Linked DNA regions of Homo sapiens. The protein of the gene in region 2 interacts with the protein of the main gene of each other region in a pairwise test. Each region holds a gene or a part of one and is shown on either strand. Other genes may lie near its edges.

The links. The genes of interacting proteins can lie anywhere in the genome.
Region 1: the proteins of FIRRM (region 2) and FIGNL1 interact in binary tests that used the Homo sapiens proteins (3 or more experiments, as listed by UniProt).

Annotation. Positions count from the first base shown.
Region 1 is NC_000007.14:50,443,633-50,447,350, forward strand, and holds the end of FIGNL1 (fidgetin-like protein 1), read right to left. Parts: intron 3,666-3,718; 5' UTR 3,656-3,665; coding exon 1,631-3,655; 3' UTR 501-1,630; downstream 1-500. UniProt on the Homo sapiens protein: Involved in DNA double-strand break (DBS) repair via homologous recombination (HR). Recruited at DSB sites independently of BRCA2, RAD51 and RAD51 paralogs in a H2AX-dependent manner. May regulate osteoblast proliferation and differentiation.
Region 2 is NC_000001.11:169,798,040-169,801,539, reverse strand, and holds part of FIRRM (FIGNL1-interacting regulator of recombination and mitosis), read right to left. Parts: intron 2,684-3,500; 5' UTR 2,622-2,683; coding exon of another isoform or gene 2,582-2,621; intron 658-2,581; coding exon of another isoform or gene 635-657; coding exon 569-634; intron 1-568. UniProt on the Homo sapiens protein: Regulates PLK1 kinase activity at kinetochores and promotes faithful chromosome segregation in prometaphase by bridging kinase and phosphatase activities.

The DNA of each region.
Region 1 (3,718 bases), on a different chromosome or scaffold from region 2:
AGGCAGAGGTTGCAGTGAGCTGAGATCACACCACTGCACTCCAGCCTAGGCAACACAGCGAGACTGTTTCAAAATAACCAAAACAAAACAAAAAATGAATTCTAATGAAAGACAATCACATATTACAAAGGGAAAAACTAAAAATTGCAACAATCTTTTAACATAAAAACAGAAGGCAAACCAAGAATAAAAATTTAAACTATATACACAAACTGTCTAAATTCAACAACTAAAAGTGTTTCAATTTGTCATTTCAAATTGCACTGTTCACAAGAGAAAACATTAGAACTTAAATATAACCTCCACGAGACCAAGGATATTTGTGTTGTTCATTGCTCTACGTTCACTACCTTCAGTTTTTTGAATAAATGCAAAAAGAATGCCAACAAATACCAAAACTGCCTACTGCCCAATGCTGCCATAGCTCTGATTCAGTGCAGATGGAGTTTTACACAGGAACTACTTTTTCAAGAGGACAATTTAGAATGCAAGCCAAAAGCTTTAAAAAGTGCATATTCTTTAATCCAGGAATTACTCAAGAAATTTATACATTTTTTAAAAAGATCACCAAATGCATCCCACATAGTTCCTTTACAATAAACAAAAGATAAACAACCTAGCGTCCTGTCCTATATGCGCTCTACCAGATGACTCAATTATATTCCATCCATCCATGGAATCCTAGACAATCATAAAAGGACATTTATGTTAACATGGAAAGTGAAGATACGCTTTGAAGAATAGGCTACAAGAGAGAATACATTACACAATCCTACTGCTGTATAAAACAAAACATCTGGAAGAATCTATGCTTAAATATTAATAGTGTGTCCCGCAAAGTGGTAGGATAATAGTGACTTTTATTCTTTTTACTTATCTCTATTTTCTCATGTTTCTGTAATGAACATGTTTCATAAAACAAAATGGGTCTGTTATAAAAATCTGAAAACTTGTTTTTGAAAGAGAGCAGTATTACAGGCTGTAGTGTCAAATAAAATATTAATGTTAAATATCACACGCTCCCGTGAAAATAACCAACATTCTTAATTAACCTTTCAGTTCTGTGAATCTAATACTAGATCACACCTTGCTATTTCTGAAAATGTTAGTCCTGATAAAAATTAAAAACCATAAAAGAGGTAACAAATTGGCTGAAGAAAGTAAAAATTGGCACTTTAGCTTTGAGATCTTAAATCTACTTAAATAACACTAAGCAATACTTTGTCCAAATGTAAACCATTATACTAGCTGACATTAAGAATTATGTGGCCATCAGAAGGCACTTTCTTCAATAAAAGATGAATATTAATCAGACACAACTTTATATGTAATCTTCAACTAAAAAAAATTTGAGCTCACTTTTCATGTTATATAGCTTCAAGATAAAGACTTCTTAGAAACAAAAGTTCATTCTCACTTTGTTCAAATAGGCTTACGTATCAGGTAATCACTGGAAAGCAAAACTTACATTAACATACACTATGTCAATCAGATGTAAAATCTGTGCTATTATTTGAAGTACAGAACTTAGAATATATTCTTAAAAATACAATTAACACATCCCCAACTTTCTATGCTAAAAAATAAAGAAGACTGTACTACAGAGATGCCTTGATTCCAAGTATCCCACTTACTTTCCACAACCAAAAGTTTTGTTCCAGTTTTCATAAAGCTCTAAATCTTTTGGAGAAACACTAGGTCGCACAGTTCTAAAAGCATTTTCAAAATCAATGTAAGCTATGGGTCGAACTTGATCCGGTGTTATGGTAGCAATGTCAGCAGTTTGTAAACTGCGAATAGGACCAAGAGAAGCCTCCCTGCAAAGCTGTGTCATGTCTGCTCCTGAAAACGCATCAGACTGCTGTACAATCTGTTCAATTTCTTCTTCACTGAGGCAACACTGCTCTTTGGACATTAGATTAATTACTATCTGTTTCCTGGCTGAAGCTTCTGGGAGGGGAATATAAAGCCTTTTCACCAATCTTCTCCGGGCAGCCTCATCAATTTCTTGTGGCCGATTTGTTGCTCCCACCACTAGGATACGATCTTCAGAAGATGTTGTTGCTCCATCTAATTGAACTAAAAATTCTGTTTTTATCCTTCTAGAAGATTCATGCTCACCATCTCCCCGTTGAGATAACAAGGAATCAATTTCGTCAATAAATATCACAGCTGGTTGCTGACACCTTGCAACAGCAAACAATGCACGGACCATTTTCTCCCCCTCACCTACCCATTTAGAAGTTAAGGATGAAGCAGAGATGCTAAAGAATGTTGCCCCAGACTGACTAGCAATGCACTTGCCAATTAGAGTTTTACCAGTCCCAGGAGGACCAAAGAGCAAAATTCCTTTAGGGGGTCCCCTTAAACCAGTAAAGATGTCTGGCCTCAACATGGGCCACACAACTATTTCCTTTATGGTGGCTTTAGCAAATTCTACTCCTGCAATATCTTCCCAATTTACTGGAGGTCCATGATCCATAATCTCATTCATAATAAGTTCAATCATCTTTGGCTCCAAGTTCTTCAGACGCTCATCAACTGGATGTGCTGGTTCTGTAGGTCCTGCCCCATAAGGCTTACATTGCATTCCTCCATTCTGCTCTCCCCCATCTTGCTTGGGTATAGGAGGAACAAACTTTCCAAGTATCCCTCGGGATCTACTAGCTCCTAGAGACTTTTTTACACCACCATATGAAGACCCTGATGCACGCTGAGGTTGGTGGTACTTTTTTTGCTGATCTACCCATAATTGTTCTTTTGCAGTTTTAAATGTAGGCAGGCTGCTATCCTCCTTTGGGCCATTATCTTCTGTTTTACTACAAGCCTTATTCAGTATTGGATTGGAAAGTGCATCAATGGTGCCAGAACCATAAAAAGACTTCCTCTGTGGATTTTCACAGGCAGCAGGAAAACAAGACTGGTTAGATAAGAACACATTAAGTCCTATGTTTTCTTTTGCAGAGCTGTGATTTTCCTTTTTGACATTTCCAAACAATGGTGTGACATGGAATTTTGCAGTAGCTGACTCACCTACAGGTGCTGAGAATGTAGGACAAGTCCTAGCAGTGTTAGTCACCATAGGTGGCTGGGCATTCTGAAGGAGTTTCAAACGATTGCTCTCCGGGAAGTCTTGGGTCCGGTCTCGATCATGAGCTGAGTTAGGTAATGAGTCACTCTCTTGAGAACTACCACAAACACTAAATTTAGGAAGATCAAAGACAGTGGCCTCCTTATGGATTACCACTGATGCAAGAGCAGGTTCCAACAGAGAGTCTTTGAATTTTTTGCCAGCTTGCATCATCTTCTGTACACTACTCATTTTGAAAACATTATTTATTGACAATCCAGACTGCCACTTGTCACTATCTGTTTGTTGAGATCCTGCCAAAGTTAAAATGTTTTCTGCATAATTATTCAACCCAGATTCAACATTGTCAGAATCAATAATTGCAGAATATTTCTCTGCATATTTTTTGAACAGTTTGGTAGCACAGACCTGGGAAATCTCAGAGTTTGCCCATGCATACTGAATGCGTAATATCTGTGCACGGTATGCATCTGCCTTCGGTCCGGTACATATGCCAGATGTAATTGCGAAGTAATTCTTCTGCCATTCACTCAGGTGCACAGATCTAGAGCTGGAGGTCTGCATTTTAGAGGTTCTATAACAAACAATAAAAATGAAAATCAGTATGAAGGAAAACAAAGAAAATAC
Region 2 (3,500 bases):
GCATTTAAAATTGACTACAAATAATTTAAATTCAGTTAGTAAAGGAACCACACAATCTGAAAATATAAGTTCTTTTTTTTTTTTTTTTTTTTTTGAGACGGAGCATCGCTCTTATTGCCCAGGCTGGAGTGCAATGGCACGATCTTGACTCAATGCAACCTCCGCCTCCCAGGCTCAAGCAATTCTCCTGTCTCAGTCTCCCAAGTAGCTGGGATTACAGGCACCTGCCACCATGTCCAGCTAATTTTTTGTACTTTTAGTAGAGACGAGGTTTCATCATGTTGACCATGGGTGGTCTCGAACTCCTGACCTCAGATGATCTGCCCACCTCAGCCTCTCAGAGAGCTGGGATTACAGGCATGAGCCACCGTGCCCAGCCTGTAACAGTTTTTAACTGCCTAATGATCACACTAACACCATTATAGTCTCACATGAGATCTACTTACTCCTTATTTTTATTTTGAATATATTTGATATATTAGAAAAAGAGAGCCATAATTAATAATAAATCATCTAAGACTGAGGCTAGATTCCTTATAACATGTATTTTCAGGTAATAGTATTATACCTTTGGTAACACTTGTGAAAAGAAAGTCTGTTCCAATGTCAGGTGGTTCATATGAGGTAAAAACATTTCTACAATAATTTTCAAAATTTCTGTAAAGCAAATAACAAATTTTATAAAAATATTGTCATGTCAGTCAACAAAGGCCACTGCCCTTTATTAAATGCAAGAATACTACCAATCTAAAGCTTGATACACTTTCAAAATACCACATTCTATACAGAGAAACTATTAAGTAGTAGCCAAAAAAAAAAAAAAAGAGAGAAAGGAAACGACCTACATATCCAACAATTGTGGACCAGTTAAATAGGTGTGTGTACATCTATTGAATAGGATCTGCCATCATTAAAATGACATTTTAAAACATGAAAAATGTTCACAATGTAGTTAAACAAAAAGTTTCCAAAATATAACACCAATTTTAATGTAGATAAACATGTACGAAGAATGATGGATAGGCTGGCAGGAATATACGGAAATGAGATGAGACTGTTCTCATCAAAATCTTAACCATTTCAGATTAGATGTTTTGTAATCTTTTCTGTTTTTCTATATGTTTCATATTTTCCACAATGAACATGAATCACTTCTATACTCAAGATAAAAAAATAATTTACTTAAAAAAAATTATGCCACGCATGGTGGCTCACGCCTGTAATCCCAACACTTTGGGTGGCTGAGGCGGGAGGACTGTCTGAGCCCAGGAGTTAAAGACCACCTGGGAAACATGACAAGACCTCATGTCTACCAAAAAATAAATATATAAATAGAAAATTAGCCACGCATGGTAGCACGCACCTGCGGTCTCAGCTACTTGGAAGGCTGAGGTGAGAGGATTGCTTGAGCGTGGGAGATGGAGGCTGCAGTGAGCTAGCTATGTTCGCACCACTACACTCCAGTTTTGGTGACAAAGCAAGACCCTGTCCCCCAAAACAAACAAACAAAAACACAGGCCAAGCATCATGGCTCAGACCTGTAATCACAGCACTTTAGAAGATGGAGGCAGGAGAATAGCTTGAACCCAGGAGTTCAGGCTGCAGTGAGCTATGATCGCACTACTGCTCTCCAGCCTGGGCAATAGAGTGAGATCTTGTCTTGAAAACAAAACAAAACAAACTCTGGGGCCAGGCTCAGCGGCTCACGCCTGTAATCCCAGCACTTATGGAGGCCAAGGCAGGAGGATCACTTGAGCTCAGGAGTTTTGAGACCAGCCTGGCCAACATGGTGAAACCCCATCTCTACTAAAAATACAAAAATTAGCCAGGCGTGGTGAAGCATGCCTGTAATCCCAGCTACTTGGGAGACTGAGGCAGGAGAATCACCTGAACCTGGAAGGTGGAGGTTGCAGTGAGCAAAGATCACGCCACTGCACTCCAACCTGGGTGACAAAACGAGACTCCAACAAAAACAAAGGAAAAAAAAATTAGGTCCCATTACACAACGTAGATTCAAATTATAAATGAATATTCCACAACCAAGTGAACTCTAAATAGAAAAGCTAACTCAAAATATGAGTAAACTGAGCAGTCTAAACTCTCTTCTGACTAGAAGAATGAATCTCATCAAGTAAGACTGATGAAGACATGAAAATGAGAAAGTCAACTTCCTCCAAATGGTAAATTTGTTATCACCTAGACAATCAGCTTTTGGCAATTTAGAAAGCATTTTCTAAATGACACTAAACATGTTAGAGGCTGATAGCTATTCAGTAGACTGCATATCATGTTTTATATAGGTCTAATCGTAACAACTAACGTTTAATATTTACAATTTGTTTATACATACATCATCAACAAAACACTTTGGTATTTATCCAAAATGTAATTTAAAACTTTTAAGTGCTGGAATTTGAATGAATTTGTTCATTTCAAGTAACTGAAGGTTATAAAGGCTGTAACATAGAGAACAGTTACATTTCAAGGGAATACAAAACTGTAAGAACACATCTACCGAGGTATGTGGGGACTCGGACCTTAACATCAAAGTACATCATACAGTTAAAACAATTTTACTTACGAATATGCTCAATCCAACTGTCAGAATGTTGAGACAATGAGTAGGATAATTAAGGAAGATACTAGTATCATAGTAATAGGGTATTCATTACTCAGAACAAACCTAAAAAAAAAATAAAACCCTTTTGAAATTTAAGCAATGACTCATAAGAGATTGGAATTGGACTCAAATTACTGGCTTAATTTTGCTTTTAAAAACTTAAGATTTATTAGGTAAACAGTATTGTGAAAACACATTAAAGAAATATTTTGAAAATTGCCCAGGGACAAACTTGCCTTTTCAAACTATGCATAGTCATGAAATATTTTTGACAGATGAGAAACAATGCTACAATAATCCACAGGTTTATGATTTATTTATTTATTTTTTTTTAGAGAGAGGGTCTCGCTCGGGGCCAAGTGGGGTGGCTCACACCTGTAATCCCAGCACTTTGGGAGACCTAGATGGGCGAACAAGAGGTCAGGAGTTGAAGACCAGCCTGGCCAGTATGGTGAGAACCCGTCTCTACTTAAAATACAAAATAATTAGCTGGGCATGGTGGCGCACACCTGTAATCCCAGCTGCTCAGGAGGCTGAGGCAGGAGAATCACTTGAAACTGGGAGGCAGAGGTTGCAGTGAGCCAAGATCGCGCCATTGCACTCCAGCATAGGCGAGACTCCGTCTCAAAAAAAAAAAAAAAGAGAGACGGTCTTGCTGTCACCCAGGATGGAGTGCGGTGACATGATCACACCTCACTGCAGCCTCAAGCTCCTGGGCTAAAGTGATCCTCCCATACCAGCCTCTCAAGGAGCTGGGATTAGAGATGCACACCACCATGCCCAGTTTGTACTTCCGATTTCTATTACAAGAAATTTTTCTTTCCTCAACATTTCTATTGTACTTAATTTATACCTAAGTCACTCATCACCTTCTATCTTT